7 linked regions of the Homo sapiens genome follow. The protein of the gene in region 1 purifies or fractionates together with the protein of each later gene. This does not show direct contact. Each region holds a gene or a part of one and is shown on either strand. Other genes may lie near its edges.

The links.
Region 2: the proteins of ARPC1B (region 1) and IFI16 purify together in Homo sapiens (affinity purification with western blotting; one study listed by BioGRID). This does not show direct contact.
Region 3: the proteins of ARPC1B (region 1) and ACSF2 fractionate together in Homo sapiens (co-fractionation; one large-scale study listed by BioGRID). This does not show direct contact.
Region 4: the proteins of ARPC1B (region 1) and ASL fractionate together in Homo sapiens (co-fractionation; one large-scale study listed by BioGRID). This does not show direct contact.
Region 5: the proteins of ARPC1B (region 1) and BLVRA fractionate together in Homo sapiens (co-fractionation; one large-scale study listed by BioGRID). This does not show direct contact.
Region 6: the proteins of ARPC1B (region 1) and ELAVL1 purify together in Homo sapiens (affinity purification with western blotting; one study listed by BioGRID). This does not show direct contact.
Region 7: the proteins of ARPC1B (region 1) and POGK purify together in Homo sapiens (affinity purification with mass spectrometry; 3 studies listed by BioGRID and IntAct, with this or other methods). This does not show direct contact.

The regions. Positions count from the first base shown.
Region 1 is NC_000007.14:99,388,230-99,392,336, reverse strand, and holds part of ARPC1B (actin-related protein 2/3 complex subunit 1B), read right to left. Parts: coding exon 4,076-4,107; intron 2,433-4,075; coding exon 2,325-2,432; intron 1,445-2,324; coding exon 1,238-1,444; intron 1,160-1,237; coding exon 1,084-1,159; intron 1-1,083. UniProt on the Homo sapiens protein: Component of the Arp2/3 complex, a multiprotein complex that mediates actin polymerization upon stimulation by nucleation-promoting factor (NPF).
Region 2 is NC_000001.11:159,044,310-159,048,416, forward strand, and holds part of IFI16 (gamma-interferon-inducible protein 16), read left to right. Parts: intron 1-987; coding exon 988-1,155; intron 1,156-4,107.
Region 3 is NC_000017.11:50,457,218-50,461,324, forward strand, and holds part of ACSF2 (medium-chain acyl-CoA ligase ACSF2, mitochondrial isoform 2 precursor), read left to right. Parts: intron 1-3,459; coding exon 3,460-3,655; intron 3,656-4,024; coding exon 4,025-4,107. UniProt on the Homo sapiens protein: Acyl-CoA synthases catalyze the initial reaction in fatty acid metabolism, by forming a thioester with CoA. Has some preference toward medium-chain substrates. Plays a role in adipocyte differentiation.
Region 4 is NC_000007.14:66,074,327-66,078,966, reverse strand, and holds the start of ASL (argininosuccinate lyase), read right to left. Parts: upstream 3,149-4,640; 5' UTR 3,111-3,148; exon of another isoform or gene 2,929-3,110; 5' UTR 2,886-2,928; coding exon 2,874-2,885; intron 1-2,873.
Region 5 is NC_000007.14:43,756,930-43,761,575, forward strand, and holds the start of BLVRA (biliverdin reductase A), read left to right. Parts: upstream 1-1,750; 5' UTR 1,751-1,805; intron 1,806-3,087; exon of another isoform or gene 3,088-3,181; intron 3,182-4,646. UniProt on the Homo sapiens protein: Reduces the gamma-methene bridge of the open tetrapyrrole, biliverdin IXalpha, to bilirubin with the concomitant oxidation of a NADH or NADPH cofactor. Does not reduce bilirubin IXbeta.
Region 6 is NC_000019.10:7,995,370-7,999,476, reverse strand, and holds part of ELAVL1 (ELAV-like protein 1), read left to right. Parts: intron 1-4,107. UniProt on the Homo sapiens protein: RNA-binding protein that binds to the 3'-UTR region of mRNAs and increases their stability.
Region 7 is NC_000001.11:166,852,872-166,856,978, forward strand, and holds the end of POGK (pogo transposable element with KRAB domain), read left to right. Parts: 3' UTR 1-3,488; downstream 3,489-4,107.

The sequences.
Region 1 (4,107 bases):
TTTGCAGAGGGGTGAAAAGGGACTTGACAGATGTGGGCGGAGGGGAGGGAGAGCAGTGCCCTTCCTGGACACCTGGAGGAACCGCACACCCCGAACTCTCGCCCTTTGCATTAGGCGTGGCCTTGCCATTGCACCTGCCAATAAAATGTGGGCAGAAATGTTAAGACCCAGGGCATGATTCCGCAGGTTCCGGCTCCCTCGTGGCATCTGGGACAGCATGCTGGGGACAGCTTCCATCAGAGCACCTCACAACACCCACACTGGACATAAAATGTGAGCAAGAAGTAAATATCTTTTTTTTTCTGTTTTTGAGATGGAGTCTCGGTGGCTCACCCTTGGCTCACTGCAACTTCTGCCTCTGGGTTCAAGCAATTCTCCTGCCTCAGCCTCCCGAGCAGCTGGGACCATGGGCGCCCACCACCACACCCGGCTAATTTTTGTATTTTTAGTAGAGATGGGGTTTTGCCATGTTGGCCAGGTTGGTCTTGAACCCCTGACCTCAGGTGATCTGCCCTCCTTGGCCTCCCAAATTGCTGGGATTACAGGTGTGAGCCACCGGGCCTGGCTCTTTTTTTTTTTTTTTTGAGACAGGTTTTGTGTCGCCGAGGCTGAAGTGCAGAGGTACGACCATAGCTCAGTTCAGAAGCCTCGACCTCCCATGCTTAAGTTATCCTCCTGCCTCAGCCTCCCAAGTAACTGGGATTATGAGATTACAGGTGCACCACCACACCCAGCTAATTTCTTAACTTTTTGTAGAGACAAGGGTCTCACACTGTGTTGCCCGGGCTGGTCTCAAACTCGTGGCCTCCAGTGATACTTCCACCTCAACCTCGCAAAGTGCTGGGATTTTAAGTGTGAGCCACCGCACCTGGCCAAATCTTTACTCTGTTAAGCAACTGCAGCCAGGGACTTTTGGTTACTGCAGCATAACCCAACCTGTTCTGCCCAATTCTGGTACATGAGAGAATGCAAGGAAGAAAAAAAGGAGGGAGGCAGGAGAAAGGAGGGAGGAGATGAGAGTTGCTGGGCTCTCTCGGAGGCCTGCTGTGACCACACACCCTCCCTCCCCTCCCTATTCCTCACCGCTGCCACCAGGCTGTTGTCTGTGATGAAGGTCAGCGCCAGCAGTGGTAGTGTTTCAGAGGCCAGAGTCGCGACGCTGAGGGGAGAGAGCTGTGAGTCACGGTGTCCCACTCCTCTGCACTCACCTCCTCCCCTGGGGATGGCCTCGACTCACGCCATCTTCTTGTCGGCATCAGCCAGGCAGACGGTGCTGTCGTGGCTTACCCAGGCCACGCGGCTCCCGCTGGCTGAGAAACAGACGCCATGTACCCAGCCGCAGCTACTGCTGGATTCGAACATCAGTTCCCCAAAGGGCATCTTGGAGCCCCACGGGGTGGGTGCCGGCCGTTCCTCCACCTCCTTGATGTAGGCTGAAAAGATCCTACCGGGATAGGCAAAGTAGAGGTAAAGTAGCCAGGCATGGTGGTGCGCACCTGTACTCTCAGCTACTCAGGAGGCTGAGGCGGGAGGATTGCTTGAACCCAGGAGGTCAAGGCTGCAGTGAGCTGTGATTGCGCTACTGTGCTCCAGTTTGGGCAACAGAGTGAGACTGTCTCAAAAAAAAAAAAAAATTTTTTTTAAAGGGTTAACAGGTGCCTGGGCATGGTGGCTGAAGCTTGTAATCCCAGCACTTTGGGAGGCTGAGGCAGATGCATCACTTGAAGTCAGGGGTTCGAGACCAGTCTGGCCAACATGGTGAAAACCCGTCTCTACATTTAAAAATACAAAAATTAGCCGGGCATGGTGGCATGCGCCTGTAGTTCCAGCTACTCAGGAGGCTAAGGCAGGAGAATCGCTTGATCGCTTGAACTCAGCAGGCGGAGGTTGCAGTGAGTCAATATCACGCCACTGCACTCCAGCCTGGGCGAAAGAGCGAGAGTCCGTCTCCAAAAAAAAAAAAAAAATCCTGTCTAGCTGGGCGTGGTAGTCTTGCTTGGGAGGCTGAGAAGCAAGAGGATCGCTTGAGTCCAGGATTTGGAGGCTGCAGTGAGCTATGATTGCACTACTGCATTCCAGCCCGGGCAACAGAGCAAGCCCCTAGCTCAAAAAAAATAAAAGAGGTGGGCAGAGGCCCATCCAGCTGAGACATGAAGGGTTCCCCAGGAACTAGAACCTTCAACCGACGCCCAGGTCATCCACTGGTAGCAGGTCTGGAATGTGTCTAGAAGCTGGGGTGTAGAGCTTTCAGGTGCGGCTCCCCGCTATGATGTCAGCAGTCAGTTGACGTCAGCCCCGCCCTCCCCCATGGCGCCCTGTCTCACCGACACTTGAAGTCACAGGAGCCGGCAGCCAGCAGCACATTGTTGGGGTGCCAGTCCAGGCTGAGGACGGTGGAGCGGATGGGCTTCTTGATGTGCTTGCAAACCCACCTGGGAACGGTGGTCAGGCAGACAGGGAGAGAGGGACAGGCAGGTGGGACTCATGGACCTCAGCACCAGGGACTCCAGGCTCCCACTGCTCCCTGCAGCCCACCAAAGACCCAGGAGAGAGGCGACTGGGCATTGCCAGCCCACAAGGCCGTCAGGGCCCTGGGGCGGCAGGGATGTGCTGTGTCGCTTCTGGAGTGGGAACTCTGTGCCCTCTATCCTTTAGGCCACACAGTCACCCTCAGAGCAGGCTCAGCAAAGTGATGCCATCACCAGAGGTCACACAACTACTAACTGGCCATGGTGGGATGCAAATTTGGGTCTCTCAGATGCTCCTGGCTGGCCTCTGCCCTCAGCCATGCAGGGGAGATTAAAAACTAAGACGTGGACTGGCAATCATGGCTCACACCTGTAGTCTCAGCACTTTGGGAGGCTGAGGTGGGAAGATTGCTTGAGGCCAGGAGTTCAAGACCAGCCTGGACAACGTGACAAGACCCTATCTCTACAAAATAAATAAATAAATGATTTGGGCCTGTAGTCCGAGCTACTCAGGAGGCTGAAGTGGTAGGATTACTTGAGCTCAGGAGGCTGAGGCTGCAGTGAGCTATGATCACAACACTGCACTCCAGCCTGAGCGACAGAGCAAGACCTTGTCTCAAAAATATATATATGGCCGGGCGCAGTGGTTCACGCCTGTAATCCCAGCACTTTGGGAGGCGGAGGCAGGAGGACCACCTGAGGTCAGGAGTTCAAGACCAGCCTGACCAACATGGAGAAACCCCATCTCTACTAAAAAATACAAAATTAGCCTGGCGTGGTGGTGCGTGCCTGTAGTCCCAGCTACTCAGTAGGCTGAGGCAGGAGAATTGCTTGAACCTGGGAGGCAGAGGTTGCGGTGAGCTGAGATTGTGCCACTGCACTCCAGCCTGGACGACAGAGCAAGACTGTGTCTCAAAAAAAAAAAAAAAAAAAAAATTGGCTGGGCACGGTGGCTCACGCCTGTAATCCCAACACTTTGGGAGGCCGAGGCGGGTGGATCATGAGGTCAGAAGTTCTAGACCAACCTGGCCAAGATGGTGAAACCCCATCTCTACTAAAAATATAAAAATTATCCGGGCATGGTAGCAGGTGCCTGTAATCCCAGCTACTTGGGAGGCTGAGGCAGAGAACTGCTCGAACCCGGCAGGCAGAGGCTGCCGTGAGCCAAGATCGTGCCACTGCACTCCAGCCTGGGTGACAGAGTGAGACTCCATCTGAAAAAAAAAAAAGGAACAAGATGTGGCTGCGAGCTCGTGAGTGGTGCCTTGAGAAAGTGACTGCTACAGGGCCTTTGCTAATCTGTAAAGTGGGGACAGTGACCGATGCCCAGTCCACGGAGCTGCAGGGAAGTCAGGACTAATGTGTGTGCAGGGCTTAGTGAGGTGCCCCCAGATGTGTTTCTGGTGTGGTGGGTGTCACTGGCAGTGAGAACATCCGGACGCTGCAGAGAGGCCCTTGCCTCATGAATGAGGCCCAGAGAGGAGAGGATGGACTCCCCCAGGGTGATGGGAACAGGGGTCCTGACATCCCATTTGGTGCTTCCCGGGGACACTCTAGTCCTGCCCCCGGTCCCTAACAGCCCACTCTGGCCCTGCCTAGGTACCCACCAGTCATTCTCCTGCTCGAAATAACAGATGGA
Region 2 (4,107 bases), on another chromosome or scaffold:
GAGCATAGATTGAATCCACAGTAGGTGTGCAAATGTTAAAATGTCTGCAGTTTATTTTTAAACAATTTTGAAAATACAGTGTTTTGTTTGGGGTTTATTTCCATAGTCCAGGTGCTCAGTGGTGGTCAGAGACTGTTCTAATCAAGAAGCTGTTCTCCATGTGAGCTCACTACAAGCAGTTCTTTTGTGTACCTCTCTATCAACAATTGCCACTTAAAAAATTAGGTTACTGAATGGGAAAACTGCTAAAATAATGTGCCACATTGGCCAAATAGGATGAATATTTTTTGGACTTCCATTGGTTTAATTAAAAGTAGTCAAGGTATGTGATTTTAGAGATATTCCCCAATTTTACTTGAAAAATGTATAAAAATATAGCTAATGGGAATGCTTTAGGTGGAATATTAAATTCTTCTGAATACAGCTAAAAACTCTGAAAGATTCTGATTGCCTGATCCATACTGTAGTGATCATAGAACCTTCCCTGAGGAATTGTGAATTTGAGAGAATCTTCTTATTATGGCTATGATCAGAGATCCCTAAAGGATGGAGATCTGGGTTTCTTGTATGCTGAAGAGCACTTGAGAGAGACTGGTTTGTGTATCTAATTGATGAGAAAGGCCTAGTTAATAAATGTCCATAAATGTAGCCAACTTTATTGCAAGCCATGCTGCCCCCAAAATAGCCCTAAGAGTTGTACCTGACCAAATAACTCAGTCCAGTTTTACAGGACGTGAAGACTGAGTATTCCATCCCCAGACAATGCAATTTCAGTTATCTGAGTTTTTAATCCTGACTGGGATGAGAGAAGGCTGAGTGATAGAAGTATCTGAATATGTGGTATTATTCCTCCTGCAACTCAGGGAAAAACAGAGAAACTGGCAAAGTGAACATCCTATTTAAAAAAGAAAAAAGGAAAAGATGTGTTTCATCTGATCTTGAAAAACATTAACTAGAAAAAAAGAACAAACATCTATTTTCCTTTAGAAAAGTGAAGACACAATCTCCAAAATGAATGACTTCATGAGGATGCAGATACTGAAGGAAGGGAGTCATTTTCCAGGACCGTTCATGACCAGCATAGGCCCAGCTGAGAGCCATCCCCACACTCCTCAGATGCCTCCATCAACACCAAGCAGCAGTTTCTTAACCACGGTACAAGTTCCCTCTTCCCAATACATTCCCCTCACTACAATGTAATGACAAGGATTAACACAACCTTGAAAGCACCTCACCAATCCCCTACTACATACAATGCTTTAATTTAACCAAATCAGTCATTTATTTATCAAGTGTGTATTTTGAGGTCCTATCCAAAATTAAAATTCTATTTTTATCATCTCTATTCCATAGCAGGTATAATTAGATATCTTTTTAATTTTATTTTCCTTTTGGCTTACCTTTTTGTTTTTCCCTCAATACACCACGAAAATAATACTTTAAGGTAGAACAAGGTGGGAAAAAACAGAGCCAACCATAACACTATCACTGATTCTTTCTCTTTCATTTATTATAACTCAAATAATACCATCTTTAAAAATTTAGGAAAAGAAGGTACATAAGCAAAAATAATTAATTTTTAACTATCAGAAATCTTTATCTAATGCCACATTTCAGTACATGGTCTTTCTGACTTTACACCTTTCATTATGTATATACAAAGAGTCTTATTATATTCTCTCAGAGTAAATCACATTACGCATATTTTTCTATAACTCATGCTTTTTATTAATATATCTTGAACTGCCATTCAACCATACAATATAGATTTAAATTACTTTATTGTACCAGAAAAATTGCATGGTTATTCCATACATTATAAAATGATCCTACGTTATTTGGCTTATGTTGTTTCTAGTATTCTGTGAATTTACAATGAACATAGTAAGAACAAATGTCTCTCAGATCTTCTTTCATTACCCTCAGAGTAGCTTTATAATTATTTCCTTAGGTCCTGTGCACCTTGTGTCAGGGTACTAATGTCATGGCTATTGTAAGGTGATTTGATACTGATTAACTTCATTGGGAACGGGTTTCCTAATGTTATGGAAAATTGGCCACATTGATGAGTTTTGTGTGTGATATGCGTTATTCCTGGTTTTGATTTGAAAACCAGAAGGATAACATTTTTATATTTGATATCTTCTACCATGTCTCCCTTTAAATAAACAACATACAATGATTTGAGATATGAACAGGAATAATTGCTATTTTTTCCTGAATAACAATTCCACCAGTATTATTATTACCAATATGTTCATCCTCTACATTCCAGTTTCTTTGCAATCCTTTCTCTTTTGCTCTCTCACCATACATCAGAGGTTAGTTTCACTATCCATGCTCTTAACCACATCAAGGGTTTTGATACTTCCTTTGATATCAAATTTTTCCATCTCAATTCTGTCCCCAAATAAGTTCAACCACGAGGTACCAGTCTCATCTATTCCTTGAGCAAGTTCTCACTAATACCCTCCTCCCAGAATAGATCATATTTTCTCATTGTTTGCCTTCATAGGTACCTTTCTATTTCTTTAGAGCATTTATCATAGCTATAATAAACCTATGACTTTCTTCCCTACTCAGCAATAAATGTAGGTTATAGATACCCTTTCCTAGGAGAAGATAACACAGAGGTGGGAAAGTGAATTTACACTTGTGTGTTATCAACCCTTATCCCAGCTTGCCTTTTGTTCTGCCCTGATACCTCTGTATGACCTACAATCCAGCGCTATGGGGCCTACACCCAAGACGAATGGGCAGGGAAGGTATGGGCAGGGAAATACTGACCCACGGCAACTTGAGGGATAGGGAACACTAAGATTTACATTACTATTCTCCAATGTTGTTTCTCACCCAAGCCCCAAGCTACCCCCGGCCCAGGTTGCGGACCCGAGCACCATCCACACACGTCAGTTGAGAACAGGCTTTCTACATACAGGTTTTCTCAATTTTTTAGACAGTCTTTTTTTTTAGTTATTAATTTCAAGATTTCATATTTCCCCCTATATAGTCTTTCCTGGTTCTTCTTGGGCAGAACTAGCTGCTTGTAACTGTTGCCATCTTGGGACTTACCATCAAGGCCACAGGTAGAGCCCATGTGTAGTCATGAAAATCTCAGGCCCACTGTCTCTCTGTTACTGTAATGACATACATAGACATCATAAGACAACTACTCTGTCCATGCATACTGGCTTGGAAGTGACACTTTCTAAGACCTTGCCTGCCTAAATATGCAGCACAATCATTTCTACTTGCATAGGAATCATTCTGCTGCTCTGAAAGCTCAGGATCCAAGGCAGACTCATCCACCTAAACATACACCACGTAGTCATTTCTTCTCTGGGATCCAGCCATCTTCACAGGAGGCCTGCAAAAATGGTGTCTGACCAATCAGTCTGTGATTCGCAACGTAAGCCGGGAATCCTTGCTCTTATACATCACAGCTTCTCCCAAGTAGTTTTTCTATAATAGAGTTCTTTCTGACTTTAATTCAAAGCCGGAAACAGACTATTACCTTTGATTTATGCTGTTACGTATCCTGAAGTGAACAGTACACAAGGGCATAATTCATGAACAGGGTAGGGTGGAGGAGGATTTATTCTGAGGGAAAACAAATGCTTGCACTTTTAAAATATTATTCAAACAAAGATTATAATTTCATCATCCAAACTGGGCTACTGTGATGACAGTTTAAGATTTCACTTATTTTTAAAACATTATATCTCAAGACAATCTTGTCAATAAAATTACATTGCTACACATGGCAGATCTGAAGAGAGGGGCTTCTCTCCTATTATGCTTCCTATATTACCTCCATACAAGATTTCCATCAGCAAGGGCATCATAAAGCATGAAATAGCTGTTCATCAGAGCAGACACGCAAACCCCTAATAGATCGTGGAAAAATAATAGCAACAAAGATTTATTTATTGAGCATTTACTGAGCTCTGGACTCTAAAACCCATTCTTTGTGCACATTACCTAATTTATTCTTTATAACACCATACAAAAATGCTATGGCTAGTCCCACTTCACATGTGAGAAAACTGAGATGCAAAGAAATCTTCCTCAGGGTCACACAAATAGTATTAGAGTCAGGATTCAAAT
Region 3 (4,107 bases), on another chromosome or scaffold:
CAGAGCAAATTCTGTTCCCATAGGAGAAGATGTGCTCTGGCTTCCAGACCTTCCAGGCCATCATTGGATATGGGCTAGGCAGTCCCTGGTGGAATCCAGGTAGAAGCTCCCAGGGCCCCCTAGGCTGAGGACCACACCATTGGTGGCCATCTCTGGCCAGGAGGGTGTGGAGGTTTGGAGGGACATGCAGCATCTTCCTTCATCACTAGTGGGATGGGAAGAGGACCAGTTTTCCACTCTAGACCTTGGCAGATCTCAGTAGACCCTGAGGGCCCACAGATTTCATAGACATATGGAATTGAATGAAATTACAAGGGGGAGAAGCAGGAGGAGCTGAGGTTGGTAGTTGAGATGTGAGGAGTGTGGGGAAAGAAACCCCACTTCTGTCCCATGTACCCCTAGGAGAGAGTAGGTTATCTTCTTTTGGTTCTCTTCTTTACCGAATAGCCTTAATCCGAGAGTTGAAATGATTTGTTTACATACATTTCTCTTCCTACCACACTATGGCTACTTAGAGGGCTGGGAGCAGTGTCTTATCCATCCCTGTATCCCTAGTACCTGGCACAGGGCTGGCACATAGTAGGTGCTCACTAAAGCTTGCTTGAATAGATGAGTCAAAGGCGGTTGGGGTGGCTTAGATGGCCAAGAGAGTGGTTGTCAAAGTGTGATTCATAGAATCCTCACCCAGTCCCACATCAGAATCACATGGGATTCTGTTAAAAATTCAGATTCTCCCGGTCCACTCCCCAGAAGCTCTGCAATGAGTAGGCATTGCAGGGGCCCAGGAATTTGCATTCTTTGTGAGATCCTGAGATGATTCCGAAGCAGCTCTCCATGGACCACATCTTGAAAAACTGTCACTTGGAGGAGGGAGTGACACTGGTTGAGAAGGTTCCTTCTGATGTCCCTGGAGGGACAAGGGAGGGATCAGCCCATAAACACAGATCCTGGTTCCAACATCCATCCATCCCTCTTCACTTCATAAATGATGTGGGTCCACTTGGGCCCATGGGTGGAGAAAACCCCAACCCCAGAACCTGGAGTTTGGGGGCTCTCCTCATTCTTCCAGGCCCAATGTCCTCTGCTCTGGACCCTTTGGTTTCAGCTGGGTTCAAGTTCCAGTCACCCTCCCGTTCTCACAGCACTCCCTTTCATTTTCCATGCCCCAGCCACAGAGACAAGCTCTCCTCTGCTGGAAAAGCCCTCCTCTCCCTTCTCTGATGATTAATACTTCCTCACCCTTCAGCTGTCAGCTTAGGCATAAATTTCTTAAGGGAGTTTTCCTTGGAGCCCCAGGTGATCCCAGATTCCGTCTTACAGGTGCTCCTAGGACCACGGCCCCTTCCTTATCTCAGCTTTCTAAACATACATTCATCATTACCAAGGTTGACTGCACTCCTGTCTTTCCCACCAGACCCTTATCTCTGCAAGGACAGGGACTGTATTTGGCTTTGTTCATTTTTTACCATTGGGCCCTCTCTGTGGTGGGTGTTTCCTAAATATTTGTTGGAGGAATAAATGTTGGCTAAGTACTCCGTAGGGCTGAGGAGGCCATAGTATGGGTGGCCCCAGGGCCCAGGTCTAAGAGAGGCTGCCTTAACCCAGCTTTGAGGGGACAGACAATGGGCCTCAGATGGGCTGGGATTCCCCCCACAGTCTGCCTCATGGCTCCCATTTCCTGATTTTCTAGGCTGTTCCCACCCACGAAGAGCTAATATGTCTAATTTCCCCAGAGACAGGGAGCTTCTTAGAAGAAGGACTGTGGCTTGTTCTATCTCTAGTCCTAGCATAGTACTTGGCACATACGGGTGCTCACTGAATGTGTGTCGAAAGCATGGTCGATAAATGCCATGAATGGATGGTAAAATGCCTGTCGACTACAGAGCACTTCACCATTCGCAAAGCACCTTTGCAGGCCTGTTCACGCTTGAACGTCATGGCCCTGCTATGGAATAGGCAAGGCAGTCTCTTCATCCCCTTCGAGCCAAAGAGTAAACAGATAACTTGCCAGGTCCCACTGGGTTTTATTGGTTTGTTGTTTGAGACAGGGCCTCTCTCTGTCACCCAGGCTCAAGTGCAGTGGTGCAACCATGACTCACTGCAACCTCTGCCTCCCAGGCTCGAGTGATCCTCCCCCTTCAACCTCCGGAGTAGCTGGGACTACAGGCATGCGCCACCATACCTGGTTAATTGTTTAAAATGTTTCATAGAGACAGGGTTTCCCTATATTGCCCAGGCTGATCTCGAACTCCTGGGCTCAAGCGATCCTCCTGCTGCAGCCTCCCAAAGTGCTGGCAAGACTTTACAGGTGTGAGCCACCATGCCTGGCTCAGGTGCCACAGTTAATAAAAGGTGGGGAAAGTTAAGTGGAGCAGTAATGGAAGTGCAGGTTCTCCTCCAGCTTGACGTGCCCTTACTTAGGGGTTGTCTCTTACCTGGCAGGGCTGGGAGGAGATGGGTAGTTCCTGAAAGGCCGATGGAGAAAACTGGGGAGTAGGTTACTACTCCCGTGACTGCCCAGGCCTCTACCCAGACCTGTTTCCACCTGTGCACTGAAATGGATAGGTAGCCACATGTGAGAGGTGAAGAGTCCCGGCCCCAGACTAGAACCCGAGCCAGGTCCCGAGCTGGCTGCTTCCTCCACTCAACATCCCCAGCTCAGTACTCTCAGGCTCTTGGTGCCCCTTGCTTATCTGACATCTGGCCCCTTTGCCTTAACTGGCTGCTTTCAGCCAGCTTCTTAATTCCCTGGAGACAGAAACTGCCTGCCTGCCTTGTGACATCATCTGAGAGTGGGAGCTGGAGCCCAGGTGCCATTTGGCATATAGGGGCTTTCTTCTTCATCTGCAGGTGCCCAGGATCTTTAGCACCTGGCACTGAACACCTACAGGCCTGTGGAATAACAGGGGCCGCCCAGCTGCCTCTCTTAGGGCCTCCATCTGCCCTCTCCTTTATCCCTTTCCTATTCTGTCTTTGGCTTTCAGGCCCTCAGGAGAAAAACTGGCCCACCAAGGAGTCTAAAATCCTAAGACCTTGGATTCAAGCCCAGGGTCCAGGCACGCTTCCCTGGTTCCTCAGGAAGGACCCCAGTGACCTGTTTATTCTCCAGGAGGCAGGGGCTAGGGGTGAAGGCATGGTCCTGCTTTGTAAGATCTGTCTGTCTGCACAGGCAGGCTCTCCCAGGCTTCACTATGGCATCTCACCTTTCCCGGGAAGGCGAAGGAGGGCCCTTTGCTCCAGCTTGGTGTAACCTTGTCCCTGTCCTGCTGCCTTGGGATTAGGCTTGAGGTTGGGAAAAGGGTCTGGGGGATTTTAGGCTTACAAGAAGATCTGGAGGAAACCTAGTGGTCTCTAACACATTGTCAGCAGCCTACCCCCTGGCTTGGCTGGGTGTGCCATGCCCTTGGTTCCAGGGAGACTGATCTGGGACAGTCAAACCCATAGCTCCTCTCCCTACAGTTCCAGAGAGGTGGATCGCATGGTCTCCACGCCCATCGGAGGCCTCAGCTACGTTCAGGGGTGCACCAAAAAGCATCTTAACAGCAAGACTGTGGGCCAGTGCCTGGAGACCACAGCACAGAGGGTCCCAGAACGAGAGGCCTTGGTCGTCCTCCATGAAGACGTCAGGTTGACCTTTGCCCAACTCAAGGAGGAGGTGGGTCCTGACCTGGAAACCTCAAAGTGGGCAAGTACTAGCTCCCAAGCTGCCCTAGCTGGGCAGAACCAGGAGCGTGGGCACCTGGCTATGGGGCAATGTGCTAGGGCTGCCAGAGAACCCCGAGGGATGGCAGGAGAAGGAGACAGGACTGACGCACAAGGGGTCCAATGCCTCCTGTATCAGCAGCTCCTGGGGCACCTGTTAACTATGCAGGCCCCAGGGCAGACCCACTGAGGCTGGGAATCTGCCTGTCCCTTTGTCCCCAGTGACTGTGATGAGAACTCCGGGCTAAGGGCTGAGGGTGGGAGTCTTGGGCCCCTTCCTGCTTGCCCCCTTTCACCCCTTGCGCCCCATCTTTTACACTAGGTGGACAAAGCTGCTTCTGGCCTCCTGAGCATTGGCCTCTGCAAAGGTGACCGGCTGGGCATGTGGGGACCTAACTCCTATGC
Region 4 (4,640 bases), about 33 Mb from region 1:
CTGCACTCCAGCCTGGGCGACAGAGCAAGACTCTGTCTCAAAACAAAAACAAAAACAAAAACCCTCAGGGTTGGGAGGCCCAGGCAGGTGGATCGCTTGAGGTCAGGAGTTCGAGATCAGCCTGGCCAACATGGTGAAACCTCATCTGTACTAAAAATATAAACATTAGCCAGGCGCGGTGGCAGGAAGCTGTAGTCCCAGCCACTTGGGAGTCTGAAGCAGGAGAATCACTTGAATCCTGGAGGTAGAGGTTGCGGTGAGCAGAGATGGCGCCATTGTACTCCAGCTTGGGCGACAGAGCAAGACTCCTTCTTAAAAATAATAATAATAATAATAATAAGATAAGGATAATAATAGTACCTCTCTGATAGCCTTATTGTGAGCATTTAATCAGATAATATTTGCAAATTGCATACATAACACGGTGCCTGGTGCTCAGGAAGGACTCGAGAAATGCCAGCTGTTACTAAGGGAGGGCTGGCAGGGGATAGGACATGCTTCAGCTCCACTCCTGGTTCCTGTATGCACCCCAGAGACCTCTCCAGTGCTCTGGCCCTGAGCTGTGAGCTGACTCCTCTATGCCCAACAGTCCCGACTGCCAAAGGACTCTGCCCTGCAGAGGCAGCCTCCGCCCCCACCCCATCTTTGAGCTGGTCCTGCCCCTTACCCCACAGCTGCCCCACCAAGCCTAGATCTCCAGCAAAGCACCACGTGGGGCCCTGGTCCTGATCACTGGAGCCAGCCAGTCAGAATTGGGGCCAGCCTGCCCCTCAGCCAGGAGCCTGGCACCGCCTCCCCCAGCGGGCTCCTGGGCCACCCTGCCTAGGTTGTTAGTAATAAAAATAACTACTTAATAAGTGGAGCTGCAGCCAAACCAATTAGTGCCAACCTACAGGAAGGCCTGGGGCAACCTGAGGTCACCTAGAACACTGGGCTTGTTGGAAGCCAGACCACTCTGCTCTAGAACCAAACTCCTATCCTTACTGGCAGGCATAAGAGGACCCCACAGGGAGATCAGAGTGAGGTGCCTCCCCTTGGGCACTGAGGAGAGTGGAGGCCTAGTGTGGTAGCAGAAGGTGCTACTCCAAGCCAGGACACATCTGGGCCAGAATGGTCTCTTCAGGGCCAGGGGATGGGGCACTGAGTTGGGCTGGGTTGAATGAGCAACAGTTAAGGTCGAATGTACATGGGAAATACCAGTTTTGGTTTTGGGACTTGTGGGTTTTTTTTCTTTTTTTGAGGTGGAGTCTTGCTTTGTCGCCCAGGCTGGAGTGCAGTGGTGCGATCTCAGCTCACTGCAACCTCCGCCTCCCGAGTTCAAGCGATTCTCCTGCCTCAGCCTCCCGAATAGCTGGGACTACAGGCACCCACCACTACACCCAGCTAATTTTTGCATTTTTAGTAGAGACGGGGTTTCACCATGTTGGCCAGGCTGGTCTCAAACTCCTGACCTCAGGTGATCTGCCCACCTCGACCTCCCAAAGTGCTGGGATTACAGGTGTGAGCCACCATGCCTGCCAGGTTTTTTTATTTTTATTTTTTTGAAACTGGATCTCACTCTGTTGCCTGGGCTGGAGTGCAGTGGTGAGATCATGCTCACTGCAGTCTCAAACTCCTGGGCTCAAGCAATCCTCATGCCTCCGCCTCCTGTGAGACTACAGGTGTACGCCACCACACCTGGGTAATTTTCAAAATCTTTTTGTAGAGACAGGGTCTCATTACATTGCCCTGGCTGGTCTGGAATTCCTGGGCTTCAGCAGTCCTCCCGCCTCGGCCTCCCAAAGTAGAAATATCAGTATTGTTGTGGTTAGCCACCATTTATTGAGCACCTACTGTTGCTCAGCCCTGTGCTAGGGATTTCACATATGTTATTACGGCCTTTTATGAGGTGGGCAATATTACCCCTATTTCACAAATGAGGAAAGAGGTTTAAAGGGCTCAAGTGACTGGTACAGAAACCAAGTCTGTTTGGCTCCAAAGTCCAGGCCCTACCCCCCTGCCATGACCCAGAAGCTTGCAGGGCACTGAGCTTGCAGGGCATTGAGAAAGAGGAAGTGAATTGCTAGCTAATGAAGGCCAAAAGGGCCTGGAACCCAGACCTCCTGCTTCCCGGAGTTCCCTTCATCAAGCATCAGGCGAACAGCCCCTCTCACCTGAAGGGTCCAAAGCAATGGCCTCATAATCTAGTGCCTTACAGAGTGAGGCCGACAGCTATTATTACCCCCATTGCCAGATAAATCAACTATGGCCCAAGGAAGGAAAACCTCTGCCTGGGAATCCAGCATCTCAGTGGTCAGGAGGAGAGGCCAGGAGCCACTGACCCTAAGAGGCAGGGTCCAGTGAGACAGGAAGGGACCAGGCACCAGGGTTGCTGGAGCCACGAGGCGACGTCCCCTTTTTCCTGGCTCTTTCCACATGCCACAGTCAAGGACAAGAACACTTAGGGGCTGAGCTTTATTCTATAAACAGGGACAATTGCTCTAGCAGGAGAAGGGATGTGGTGTGGGGTGGGACCTGACAGGAGGACACGTGGTAAGAAGGAAGGAAGAGTTGGAAGGCTGAAGGCTTGGGAGCCACTTTTCCTGGCCAGGCAGGCATCACTGTGAGGTGAGGGCAGAGCCACTCTACCCCTAGTAGTGTGGGTTGGTGGGTTTGCCACAAGGGCTGCCTGCGGATACTGGTGAGTCCTGGTAAAGGTGACTGCTGGGCTCCAGATGATGCGCCCGGGAGGGCTGGGGGTGCAGGCTTCCTAGGTAATTTTCAAAATTGCTTCCTGGAGGGCGATTCCCAGCAGGGTGGCCCGAGGCAGGTCTGGCGCCCCCACTCTCTCCTTTGGAGGCTAGGAGGACCGGAGTCCCCGAGGTCCCACTCACCTCCGAGGCCATGTTGGGCGGTTCCTCGTCGTCCGGAAGCTTCGGTCCTCCGGGTCTGGAAGACAAGACCGGACTGACGACCTCCTTGGCCAGCAGGGTCCCCCGGGCCGGGCTGGCTCCGAGTTCTGGGCACTGCGCTTGAGGGAGCGCAGCCCTTGGGGACGCGGACGTGAGCGCGCGCCACGGTGCTCGGCGTCCTCCACGCCCGTCCCGCCCATCCGGCCGCCGCGCACTCACCTCCGCCTGGCCGCACGGATAGTGTCGCGCCCGCCACTGGCCAGGGCTTTTCTGGCCGGGATGGCGTCAGCAGCCGCCGGTCCTGTCCCCACCCCTGGCGACGGCCGCGCCAATAGGAGGCCGCCCGGCGGGGTGGGCGTTGCCTCCATCCTCCAATCCTGGCCGTGGGCGGGGATACCTCCCGCTGAGCTGGAGGCTAAGCGGCCCCGGGGCGGGGAAGCGGGCGGGGAAAGGGTTGGGGGGACCCCGACGGGGAAGGGGCCTGGGCTGGGGTTGAGGAGGGTAGTGCGCTGGCGTTCGTGCTGTGGTCAGCAGACACGCAGGGGACTGGAGACTCGGGCCAGGGGTAGAGGCTATGACATCAGGCCCGGGCCTGGCAGGTTCACAAGATATATAAGGTGAAATGGCATGTTCGCTCATTCACTCATTCATTCATTCATTCAACAAACACGTACCAGGCACCTCTATGTGCCAGGTACAGAGAAAGGCATCAAGGAAAAAGGAAGGACCATCAGAAATGAAGCCTGTGCCAGGCGCGGTGGCTCACAGCTGTAATCCCAGCACTTTGGGAGGCCGAGGTGGGAGGATCGCTTGAGGCTACGAGTTGGAGACCAGCCTGGGCAATACAACAAGATCCCGTCTCTACAAAAAAATTAATAATAATAAAAAAAAAGCCGGGCGTGGTGGTGCACGCCTGCAGTCCTAGCTACTCAGGAGGCTGAGGCGGGAGGAGCACTTGAGCCCAGGAGTTCGAAGCTGCAGTGAGCTATTGTGCCACGGCACTCCAGCCTGACTCCTCTAAAAAAGAAAAGAAACGCGGCCGGAGGCCGGGCGCGGTGGCTCACGCCTGTAATCCCAGCACTTTGGAAGGCCGAGGCGGGTGGATCACGAGGTCAGGAGTTTGAGACCAGCCTGGCCAAGGTGGTGAAACCCCGTCTCTACTAAGAATACAAAAATTAGCCGGGCACGGTGGCGGGTGCCTGCAATCCCAGCGACTCCGGAGGCTGAGGCAGGAGAATCTCTTGAACCCGGGAGGCGGAGATTGCAGTGAGCTGAGATGGTGCCATTGCACTCCAGCCTGGGTGACAGAGCAAGATTCTGTCTCAAAAAAAAAAAAAAAAAAAAAAAGAAAGAAAGAAAGAAAGAAAGAAAAGAAAAGAAAAAAGAAACGCAGCCGGGCACAGTGGCTTACGCCTTTAATCCCAGCACTTTGAGAGGCTGAGGCGGGCGGATCACCTGAGGTCAGGAATTCGAGATGAGCCTGGCTGACATGGTGAAACCTTGTCTCTATTAGCCGGGTGTGGTGGTGGGTGCCTGTAGTCCCAGCTACTCCGACAGCTGAGGCAGGAGAATCACTTGAACCAGGGAGGTGGAGGCTGCAGTGAGCTGAGACGGCACCACTGCACTGCAGCCTGGGCGACAGTGAGACTCTTGTCTCGAAAAAAAAAAAAAAAAAAGAAAGAAAGAAAGAAAAAGAAAAAGAGAAGAGAAAACAAAGAAAGAAACGAAACAAAAGAAATGAAGCCTGAC
Region 5 (4,646 bases), about 56 Mb from region 1:
TATGTCCTAGGCCTTGCCAGTGAAAATATGGTACCTCATCAGTGGCAGTTATTTTTCCGAGAAAGGACATATCATGACCCAAGGGGCAGCAGCAGGGAGGGGTGGATGGAAGAGACAGATAACAAACAATAAGCTAAATAAACAAATTCAGTCAGGAGCTAAAGAAATAAGTCATTCAGGAGTGGGGCAGGTGGCAATTTCAAATGGAGTGGTTAGGGTAGTTCTCAATGAGGCAGCATTTGAGAAAATATCAGGAAGAGTGAGAAGTAGTCGAGCATTCCAAACAGACAGGAGCCTGTGCAAAGACCCTGCAGCAGAGCCCTGTCTGCCTTGCATAAGAAATAGCAGGGAGGCCAGAGTGACTGGAGCAGAGTGAGCCAGTGGGGAGGCAGTAGCAGATGAGGTTGTAGGGGTAACAGAGGAGCAGATCAGGCAGGGCTTTGGGTTTTACTCTGAGTTTGGGAAACCACTGGGAAGGTTTTGGGCAGAGGAGGAATTTGATCTGGCTTTCTTTTTTTAAGGTCACTCTGGCTGCTTTATGGGGACAGGCTGCAGGGATATCAGGGAAGAGACCACTGTCATGACCCAGGTAGCAGATGATGGAGGCAGAGGTAAGAAGTGGTCAGGCTCTGGGTATGCTAGGGAGATCCAACCAACAGAATTTTTGGGCCCTGGAGGTGGGATGTGAGAGAAAGGTTTCTGAAACAGCAAGGTTTCTGGCCTTGACAACTGGAAGATGGAGTTGCCATCGAGATGGTGATGCTATGGGGAAGAGATCAGGGGCACAGATTTGGATGTGTTGAGATTGAAATGTATTTTAGAGATCCAAGAGGAGGTATTAAGGAGGCAGCTGGATAGAGGAGTATGGAGTTCAGGAGGCAGGTCCCGCCTGGAGATAAAAATTCAAAGCCAAGCCTTCTCTCTTTGCACTCAACAAAACCTCACTTAAACAGGCTTGTCAGGTCATGGAATACGGTACTAGAACTCTTTGTTGGGGAAAATGCCAGTCAACCTTACCCGTCAGAACGCTGCCTTTAAGATCAGAGATCTCTTTCCTTCAGCCTAATCCACCCCTCTCCCTGTTTTCTCCCCTAGCCCCACTAGGCTAGAAGCTCCCTGGCTTCTCCCACATCAGGATCCCCAACAAACCCATTCCCAGGTGGATAAGAGCCCAGGCAGTTCCCTAGACCACGTTCACTACTTCCTAGCTACCCAAGAGCAGGACATCGCAGACACCGGCCTCCTGGAATATTCCCTCCGCTCCTCACATTTACAGGAAGGACTCAGGTAAGCCTCGGCGCCAGTTCAGTCGGCCCGGGGCCACTAAATACCAATGGGATCCAGTGGGTTCTACGTGGTGAGTGGGGGGCGGATAAGAGAGATGCGACACCCCCCGGGCCTGCCCCCCCCACGCCGGGGCCAGGCACACCGTGAGGGGGCCAGGCACACCGTGAGGGGGCCCAGCCACTTCCATACGCCCTCCGGTCGGCCGGCACCCACCACCCACCCCTCGCCACCAAGCTGGGTGCAGAGAACAGGGCAGGCGCACGGACGGTTCTTACGGCCCCAGGCGCCAGACCCAGGGCACAGAGGCCAGGATCTCACGCGCGACCGCACGAGGCCGGGACCCTCCCTCCCCTTCCGTCCACTCCCTTCCCCACCGCCTCCGGTCCCCTCCCGGTCTCCGCCACCCCGCTTCGGGGCCCCCGCCCCCCAGCCGGGCAGCCAATCGGAGCTGGGATCCCGCCCCGGTCCGCAAAGCCGGTGGCGCCCGGAGGCTGCACGGAGAGCGGTGCCCGCGTCAGGTGAGGCGCGCGCGGGGAACGGGGGTCGCGCGCAGGGGAGCGGGGGTCGCGCGCGGCTTCCATAGAGCGCTAGGGCCTGAGCTCGAAGCCCCAGGCCCGCAGGAGGCCCGGGCCCGCGGCCGCCAGAGCCGGGACGCAGCCTGGGCGCCGCCTGCCCCGCCCCGCCCCGCCCGGGCCCGGAGTGAGGACGCGGTCGGAGGCCCAGCAGCGCGGGTCCCGGCAAGGGGCTTTCTCAACTACACAAAAGACAGTCTAAAAAATTAAGTCTCCATTTCGGTTAAGACTGCCCGTAGTTTCGGTTTTTATGTAGACCCAAGAGGGCAGGCTCGGCGTCCGCGTGCCGCGTAGTCCGGCGGCTCCAGGAGCGCGAGCGGCTGGGCCCGGGCGTAGCCACCGCAGGGCCGCTAGCTCGGCCGGGACCCGCCTGGGATGCCCTGGGGTCTGCTCCGCTGGGGCGAATCCTGAGGCGCCACGCGAGGCACTTGGCCTCTCCTAGCCCCGCTTTCGTTTTTGGAAACTGGAAACTATCACTTATTTCGTAGACGGTGTGAGGGTTACATGACAGTGTTCTGTAAAGTGCACTCTACATATGAAGTGCTCAGAAATATGGCTAATAATGAGGGTATTTATAAACTACTTAAATTATAAAAAGAATGAGACATCAGACTTACAGTTTTGGATACTAATTTTTTTCACTTAACGTTCATTATGTGATAGGAGTTTTCCATCCTATTATACCGCTGTGCGATCTGATCTTGGGCACGTTAACCAACCTCTTGTTGCCTCGATTTTCTCACCTGTAAAAGTGGGGGTAATCATAATGCTTACTTAGTAGGATAGCCCTGAAGAATAAGTGACTTAGCGAACATAAATAGCTTACAATAGGGTTTTCAGCATGGGAAGGATTCAGTAAATGTTAGCTGTCATCATCACCACCTACAAAGGAAGCAATACTGTGCTGAAAGTTTTTCCATCATTAATGTAATTTCTATAGTACGATTCCCAAGAAGATATTAAAATTATGGAAATAAAGGTATTGGTATATTCCTAATTATTTCCTAAAAGATTGTATTGATAAATATGCTCATCCTTCCCTTAACGGGATGCATTCCAGAAAAACAAGTCAAATGTTAGACAAAGTATCAGAAGGGAAATTCTGTAGCCAGAGAGCTAAAAATTACAATAGGGTCTCTAATTATACTTCAACTTTTTTAGGAATAATTCTCAGTGTGTTTTCCCACATTTCATATGTAATTTTTTTTTTTTTTTTTTTTTGAGACAGAGCCTCGCCCTGTCACCAGGCTGGAGTACAGTGGCGCGATCTCGGCTCACTGCAACTTCCACCTGCTGGGTTCAAGCAATTCTTCTGACCTCAGGTGATCCACCCGCCTCGGCCTCCCAAAGTGCTGGGATTATAACAGGCGTGGCATGAGTCACCGCGCCCGGCCGATCTTTACTTTTTTATTCTTTGTACCCCCTGCCTATCCAGTTAGCATGTGATTAAAGTCAAAGATTTGCCACTTTGGGCCACATCTATTAATTTTCATCTTTGTTATAATTGTATTTAGTTTTTGATCTACACTGCTTATTACTCCCAGTCATTTTTTCTAGAACTGAAAATCTGGTAAAATACTCAAAATTGCACTGACTTCTATGTAGAGGCGACACTCCATCAGAACCGTGGGCTGACAGGGAATCCCACTGTGCAGGAGCTGCGCGCATTTTCATTTCTGATTCTCTTTGGCGTATCCAGGACTCTGATGACATGATCATATATTTATCAGTAGTAACAGGTTGGGCCATTTGTTTTTTGTGGTAAATCATATATTTAAGATTTTAGAAATAAGTTGATAGCCATGTATTTTGGAATTTGAAAAAGACATTGCATTACTCAGCTTCAAATTAAGCTTTAATCAAATAGTGAAACTTTCCATTAATGGACAGTGTATACCTTTTTGTGTATTTAAAAAAAAAAACACTGAATATAGTGCCTTTGTGACAGGGGAGCTTAGTTCCTGACAATGTCCTCTTGAGTCTTTTTTTTTTTTTTTTGAGATGGAGTCTCACTGTGTCGCCCAGGCTGGAGTGCAGTGGCGCCATCTTGGCTCACTGCAACCTCCGCCCCCTGGGTTCAAGTGATTCTCATTCCTCAGCTTCCTAAGTAGCTGGGATTACAGGCACGCACCACCATGACCAGCTAATTTTTATACTTTTAGTAGAGACAGGGTTTTGCCATGTTGGCTAGGTTGGTCTCGAACTCCTGACCTCAAGTAATCCACCCACCATGGCCTCCCCAAAGTGCTGGGATTACAGGCGTGAGCCATTTCACCCGGCCTCTCTTCCGTCTTTGAGCTGTGAGGAAATAGCTACATTACATGAGCTGCTAGATCTGCCTTATGGTCAGAAATGAAGGTTGAACTCTCAGGAACAGTGACATATATACACACTGATATTTCCAAAGTACAATGCCCCAAATTGATCCACAAAGGAATTAAGGTCATTTGCAACAAAATCACAGAATAGTAACAAATAAATAGAAGATAAATATGGCCAGGAATTGAGATGAGAGAAAGTATAAGTACAAGAAACTATTCCAGGGGAAAAAAAGAATGAAGTGTTTCAGTGTTATCCAATAGAATTTTCTGTGATTATGAAAATGTGCTATATTTAATTAATTTATATTCCAATAGCCACTCTGTGTAGCGGCTCCCTTATAGGTCATTGCAGGCCTATATTTTTGTAGTTGAGTCCCAAATTTGTTTCTAGAAAGGTAAACTTGGTCAGTTACATGGTTCTTGTCTTTTGAAAGTAAAACATACATGGCAACTTCATTCATTCATT
Region 6 (4,107 bases), on another chromosome or scaffold:
GTTGGGACAGTAACAAAGGTTTACAGCAATGGCATGGAGGCACTGAGAACTAGAGTAAGTAACCTGTTGTCCTGGGGGAAGGTGGCCTTTTATTTTTTATTTTTTTGAGACAGTCTCACTCTGTTGCCCAGGCTGGAGTGCAGTGGCGTGATTTTGACTCACTGCAACCTCTGCCTCCCGCGTTCAAGTGAGTCTGCTGTCTCAGCCTCCTGAGTAGCTGGTACTACAGGCATGCACCATCACGCCCAGCTAATTTTTGTATTTTCAGTATAGACAGGGTTTCACTATGTTGGCCATGCTGGTCTCAAACTCCTGACCTCAGGTGATCCGCCTACCTCGGCCTCCCACATTGCTGGGATTACAGGCATAAGCCACCACGCCAGGCCAGGAAGGTAGCTTTTTAAAGATGAGCCAGCCTGGTGTAGTGGCTCTCACCTATAATCCCAGCACTTTGGGAGGCCCAGGTGGGAGGATGACTTGAAGCCAGCATGGGCAACAAAATGAGACCCCTGTCTCTAAAAAAATTTAAAAATCAGCCAGGTATGGTGGCACACACCAGTAGTCCCAGCTACTTGGGAAACTGAGGCAGTTTGAGGCTGCAGTGAGCCGTGATTATGCCACTGCACTCTAGTTTGGCAGCAGAGCAAGACCCTTTCTCAAAAGAAAAATAAGTAAAAATAGAAGTGAGCTGGGAGGCCAGGCATGGTGGCTCACACCTGCAATTCCAGCACTTTGGGAGGCCAAAGTAGGAGGATCACTTGAGCTTGGGAGTTCAAGACCAGCCTGGGCAACAAAGAGAGACCCCCATCTCTTTAAAAAAAAATACTAATTTTAAAAAATGAGCTGGGAAGTGAAGGAGAGGACACTAGTGCCCTGCAGAGGGAACAGCCAAAGCAGAGGCCTGTAGCATATTGGCAAGAAGCTGGAGTGAGCGGGAAGGGAGGGTGGCGACTGAGGCTGGAGAACCACCTGGGTCCGATTGTGAAGGGCCTTGCCAGTTTGACAGTTGCATTGTCATGACAACTTGAGGCCTGGCCCTGCCACTTATTAATGGCATGCCTGACCGTGAGCATCATCGTGTGACCGCCGAGCCTCAATGGGTGGTGACCACTGACAGGGAATACCAGAGGGGTGAGCATCTTGATTGCAGGACAGTGCAGGCCTTGCACCTCGAGAGACAGAAGTGGCTACGACTTGGGAGTCAGTGATAATTGAGTGGTGACAAGGCCCAGTTGTGGTTGGAGCTTGTGGGATAGAAGCTGATTTGGCCCAGGATTGATGATGCAGATTTGGAGAAGGTCAAGGGAAGGGCCTCCAGAGAGTGGGGTGGGGGCCCAGAAACGTCATGAAACTGCTTTGCAGGGCAGGTTGTTGGTTTCTCCCGTGTTACTAGTTGACCAAGAACTTGACCTGCAGGGGCTGCTCAGCCTTGACTCAGAGTGTCAGGAGGAACAGGGCCGCAAAGCAGAAGTTCTCTTTTTAAACCTTTTAAAATTTATTTTTATTGTGGTTTTGTTGTTGTTTTTGAGGCAGGATCTCACTCTGTCGCCCACGCTGGACTGCAGTGGCACAATCATAGCTAACTGCAGTATTGACCTCCCAGGCTCTAGTGATCCTCCCAGCTGAGCCCCCCGATTAGCTGGGATTGCATACAGGTGTGCATCACCATTCCTGGGTAATTTTTAATTTTTTTTTTTTTTGTAATGATGGCATCTCTCTGTGCTGCCCAGGCTGGTCTTGAACTCCAGGCTTAAGCAGTCCTCCCACCTTGGCCTCTGAAAGCGCTGGGATTAAAGGCATGAGTCGCCACACTCAGACAATTTATTTTTAAATTTGCATGTAGGAAAATTCATTTTTTCGAGTAGAGTTCTCTGAGTTTTGACAAACGGATAAAGTTGTTTGATTACCACCATAATAAAGATTGGAAAGTTCGCTCTCCCACAAACAGAAATACTCCCTCCTCCTGTCCCTGTGTAATCGACTTTTCCCCTCACTCCCTAACCCCAGCGACCACAGATCCATCCCTATGGTTTTGCCTTTTCCAGGAAGGCACAGAAATGATGTGGCAAGATGTGTTTGAGATTCACACAAGTAGCATGAATTGGTGATACCTTTTATTGCCAGGTGGTATTCTGTTGTATGGTGTATCCCAGTTTATCCATGAATGGCTTGAAGAATATTTGGGTTGTTGTAGTTTTGGATGATTATGAATAATGCCGCTCTGCACATTTATATACAGATTTTTGTGTGAATATAGATTTTCCTTTCTATTGCCTTAATACTAGGAGTAGGATTGCTGGATCCCATGCTAAGTGTATATTTCACCATAAGAAACTGCCAATCTGTTTTCCAAAGTGGCTGTCACATTTCACATTTTTGCATTCCCACCAGCAGTGCATGAATATTCTGGCTTCTCCACATCCCTGCCAGCACTTGACATTGTCTGTTTTGTTGCTGTTGGTTGTTTTTTGTTTTATTTTGCTTTAGCCATTCTAATAAGTGGGTAGCGGTGTCTCGATGTGGTTTTAATTTGACTAATGATGTTGAGCATCTTTTCATGTGCCTGTCTGCCATCCATATATATTCTTTGGTATAGTATCTGTTCAAATCTTTTGCCATTTTTGAAACCAGGTTGTTTGCTCATTATGTTGTTTTTGGTTTTTGGAGATGGAGTCTGGCCCTATCGCCCAGTTTGGAGTACAGTGGCGCCATCTCGGCTCATTGCAACCTCTGCCTCCCAGGTTCAAGCGATTCTCCTGCCTCAGCCTCCCCAGTAACTGAGATTACAGATGCCCACCACCACGCCTTGCTAATTTTTTTTTTGTTGTATTTTTGTAGAGATGGGGTTTCACCATGTTGGCCGGACTGGTCTCAAACTCCTGACCTCAGGTGATCCACCCACCTCGGCCTCCCAAAGTGCTGGAATTCCAGGCATGAGCCAGCACACTAGCCTGCTTCTGTTTTGAGAGCTTAAAAAAAAGTGTTCTGGGCCAGGCGTGGTGGCTCACGCCTGTAATCCCAGCACTTTGGGAGGCCGAGGTGGGCAGATGGGCAGATCACGAGGTCAGGAGATGGAGACCATCCTGGCTAACACGGTGAAACCCCGTCTCTACTAAAAATACAAAAAATTAGCTGGGCATGGTGGCGGGCGCCTGTAGTCCCAGCTACTTGGGAGGCTGAGGCAGGAGAATGGCATGAACCCGGGAGGTGGAGCTTGCAGTGAGCGGAGATCATGCCACTGCACTCCAGCCTGGGTGACAGAGCAAGACTCCATTTCAAAAAAAAAAAAAAAAGGGTTCTGGGTTGGGTGAGGTGGCTTACGCCTATAATTCTAATACTTTGAGAGGCCAAGATGGGAGGATCACTTGACACCAGGAATTCAAGACCAGCGTGGGCAACATAGTGAGACCCTATCTCGACAAAAAATAAAAAATTAGCCAGAAGGCTGAGGCAGGAGGATTGCTTGAACCCAAGAGTTTGTGGCTGCAGTGAGCTATGATTATGGCATTGCACTTCAGCCTGGGCAGTGGAGTGAGACTTTGACTCAAAAAAAAAAAAAAGTGTTCTGACTACAAGTCCCTTTTGCAAATGTTTACTCCAGTTGGTGGATTTTAATTCTCCTAGCAGTATCTTTCACAGAGCAAAAGTTTCAAATTTTGATGATATCCAGTTTATCCATTTTTTTTTTTTTTTAACGAAGTGGGCTTTTGGTGTTGTGTCTGAGAAATCTTTCCCCAGCCCAATGCCACAAAGATTTTTCTCCAAGAAATTTTATGTTTTTACATTTTAAAACAGAGGTCGGCAGATTTTTTTTGTGTGAAGAGCCAGATGGTAAATATTCTCAGCTTTTTTGGCCATACGGTTGCTACTACTTAACTGTGTTATTGTAGTACAAAACTATCTATAGACAGACAATACATAAACAAATGAGACAAGCTGTATTCCAATAAAACTTTATTTATAACAACAGGCAATGGGCCAGATTTGTACCACAGGCCATGATGTGTGTTTCAGGAGGTCCACTTTTCCCAGACCTAGAGGATACCACACTGTGGACAGTAAGCCTGGGACAGCCATTGTCCATCTCACCGTCCATGAAAGCAGAAT
Region 7 (4,107 bases), on another chromosome or scaffold:
CATCAAAAGAAACCTGTAAATATGAAAGAACAAAGGTTATTTCCTGGAGAAAAGACAATTTATTCAACACCAACGAGGGACTCATCATATGGGCACAACTCTGGTGTCCTTCTATGGAGAAAACCTCAAGTAAAGTTTTATTCTGCCTTTGAAAATGCTTCCAAAAGTAGACCCTGTCCCCACACAGGTCAAGACTACAGAGAAGGCTTTGTAGAAATGTGTCACCTATGTACACCTGCTACTTACACATTTCCTCTTTTGGAAAAATGAGATACTTAGAATAACAAGAAAATTAAGACATACTGGCCTGGTGCCAGCAGATGGCTTTTCTATAGACAAACTAGGTTAGTGTGGAAGATATAGGTTAAAATAAACTATGCTGTTTTATTTATCTTCCCAACCTGATTGGCAGCTAGACTTTTTTAGGGTCTCATTTAATGGCCCTGTTTTTTTCATTATTATATTTAATGATAGGGCAGGATTTCGTATGCAAGCTCTTGTTTCTCAGGCTGCCTGCAGAAGAAGTCGCTATAAATTATCTGTTGTCTACATGGTACAAGGCCCATTGACTCATCTGATGCTTGTTTTGTTAATTTCTTTAATATTTTTATCACGGGGCAGTGGGAGGGCTTGGGCTTTTAGCCACAGCTGTTTTAAGACTTCTGATCTCCTGCCCTGCAGGAATAGGTGGGAAGTCATTGAATTTTTACACTATAGTAATTTGCATTCCCACATAAGTTTGAGTGTTACGAAAACATTCCTTTAAAGGGATCTGTGCTACACAAAATATGCCAGGACCTCACAGACAAAGCCATTGCTAGAAATGTCATTCCAATGATCAGATCTGGAAACAGGCTGCCATAACCACTTTTCCTTCTTGTAGACTCAGCTCACCTGTATATTTAAACTGTTCTTGGCATCTTGAAACACCTATTTCTACTCAGGTACTCATTGTCCTGTTACTGATTCACCTTTCTGATCCTTTTCAACCAGTTTTCCCCCAAGGGGGGAAATTTTACTTAACCTCTAGTATTTGAACAACTCAATATTTGAATTGTTGCCCCATTTGCTTTTACCTGTACTGTATTCTTGGTCATCTCAAATGGCGTCTAAACCCAGCTACTTTGCATTCCAGAAGTTTCCATTCCCTCCAATTCCACCTAATTTTTCATCTGTCCTAGTTACTGGCTCTTTCTTCATGTCTTATTTCTCTTGCTTTGGGAGCTTAAAAGATTTTACAAGACCTAATTTTGGGTTCCTTCCTTGGAGCCATAGTTACCCTGCCAAGAAGAGTAGAAAATGGGTTCAACTCCTGTTTCGCTCCACCAACACCTCTGTGAGTCTCATCATCAGCTGAGCGATGATGCCTTACAGGTTGCATAGCACTGGAACTTTCCTAGAGTAACGGCTCTGCTGCCAGGGTTTCTCTGGGCTCATTCTTCCACTGACTTAATTATGATCTATGCCTAACAGAGCCCCAGTACAACTATTTTGCAGAATGGCTGTTACCCTAGAATTACTATAGCACATATTGAGATATAGTTGTACTCCCTAGTAGATAGGAACTGACCCCAACAATAAACTTTGATAATAAAGACAATAGGCTATGGTGATTTTATTTCTTTACCTATTAGCATTGTGAAAAGTTACATTCAAGGTATTGGCTACACCTTATTCTCCATCCGGTTTGGTACCAATATATTACATCTTTCAGTCAAAAAGTGTTCATGAGATGCAGTGTAAGTAATATTGGTATCTGTGAAGACACAGGGAAGAACGTGTGCAGTGGGGCAAGTTTGACATAAATAGCTTTTTTCCTCAGTCATGTTTTGTATGCTCTCAGCAGTGGTACATTACCAAAATCACATGAAAGAAATCCCATAAAGGGATCTGAATTTTAAATGAAAGTATGATGAACCCGCAAGTCTTAATTATGCACTTTTAATAAAATTAGTCCTGACAATTTACAGTGCCCATAAAGTAGTAGTTGATTCTCCAGGAATAATCTGGCAGTGTTATTTTTCCTTTTCAACCCATCAGCATTAAATGCTGAGCCACTCTCCAAGTCTGACCCCTAGACTAAGCTTCCTTACTCTTACTCTTCCTCCCAGAGGCATTTTGGAATGAGTCAAAGGCATGGTAGGACACGGCATTTACCTGTGGTCATCACTTCAGGCAATGGAAAGGAAAAGTGTTTGTCCTTGGTTGATCAGAGAAGTGGGTGATAAGAACGTGCTAAATAACAAACCTGCACACTTGTACCTCTGAACCTAAAATGTTTTTTTTTTAATTCAGAACAACAAAAGAACATGCTAAGCGAGTCCTCCCACCTGCCTGGTAAAATACAGCCAGCTTTATCACACCTGGTTTTGCACAGTGATAAATTCCTGCAGGAAAAAATAAGTTTTATTCTAAGTCTGAAATTATATGGTTTCCAACAGCTTTTTCCCTCGTTAAAATAATTATTTTTCTACATGATGCTTGATAATAAGCATTTGTTTCTTAACCTAATTAGAGAAGCGATTGCACTCGAGTCCCCACAGCTGGCAGTGGTGTTACAGATGGAACCAGCCTTTGGTGGACAGAGTTCAGATGTTTCAGGGGCTCTTGTGAAAATGCTAAGTATTACTGTTTCTACCTTACTGCCCTGCACTTTACCCCATCATCTCCCCTCCTTAGAAAATGATTTCATAGGAAAATTGGCATGGAGAGCAGATAGTAGAGTGTAGACCTGAAATACATGAGGCAAAGGCAGTCTTCCAGCATTCTATGGTCCCACCAGGTGGGTAGGTGACTAGGAATTCAGGCCAGGTCCTAGAGAGTAGTGAGAAGTTTTCCAGTTTGCAGTTTCCTCTGTGCTGTATGTACAGCCATACAGCCTATGGAACCTGACATTGCAGTGGGCAGCAGGACACGGTCAAGGCTCCTAGCTGCCTCTCCATCTATGGAACTATGAAATTTCACACATATTCCCTAGGCAGCATTAAGGCCCAGGTATATTGAGTAGTCCAAACCAAAAAACTATATTCGAGTATCAGTTTAAATTCTTCCAAGCCCTAAAAATTCTTACGTAGTTTCTCACCTAAAACTAATGGCTTGTGCCAAGAACTGAAACTAAGCTATTGATTTTTTTTTAAGAAGTCTTAATCTATACATAAGAAATTACATACCTGGCCAGGTGCAGTAGTTCAGGCCTGTAATCCTAACAAACACTCTGGGAGGCCAAGGTGGGCAGACTGCTTGAGCTCAGGAGTTCATTACCAGTCTGGGCAACATGATAAAACCGTGTCTTTACAAAAAAAAAAAATTTTAAATTAGCCGGGCATGGTGGTGTGAATCTGTAGTCCCAGCTACTTAGGAGGTTGCGATGGGAGAATCACCTGAGCCCAGAGGTCCAGTCTGCAGTGAGCCATGATCACACCACAGCACTCCAGCTGGGGTGACAGAGTGAGACCCTATCTCAAAAAGAAAAGAAAAAAAAAAAAAAAGAAATGGCATACCTTAGTTGGAATCTGCTTTTTAATCTTTCTCATCTAGTACATTATTTTGAGAAGTCTCTGCCAAGCCCTCATAGAGCAGGCAATTTTTGTATTTCTGTAGAAGGCAATATTCCTTATAATGTTTAATAAACAACAAAGTTTTCTCCCAAAAGGTTTATTTGTCACATTTAAAGTACAAAATCAAATACACAGATCCAGATATGTGAACCATATATACATATCTATACAACCATTATTTAGACTTTCACAAACCTATCTATACATTCTAATTTATCTATCAACACTATCCCTTAAGTAAAAAGCAACATATCTCTTAAGTAGGTTTGTTATCAGTAACACTATCGAATGTAAATTATTTTCACTTCATCACTTGAAACGGTAGAAATAGGTACCTCCTAGAAACTGGAGAATTACCAAGCATATATCCAATTTGTATAGATTTCTTAAAATACATTCTATAGGAATAATTAACCGAAGAAACTGCCAATCAAAGTTTTTGGGCATATTTAACAAAACTTGAGTCATGGGAAGACATAAAGTTAATTAATTGCATTACAAGAGTTTTGTTTTGACTTTGGTTTTAAATGCAAAGAGGGGCTTTATTTTG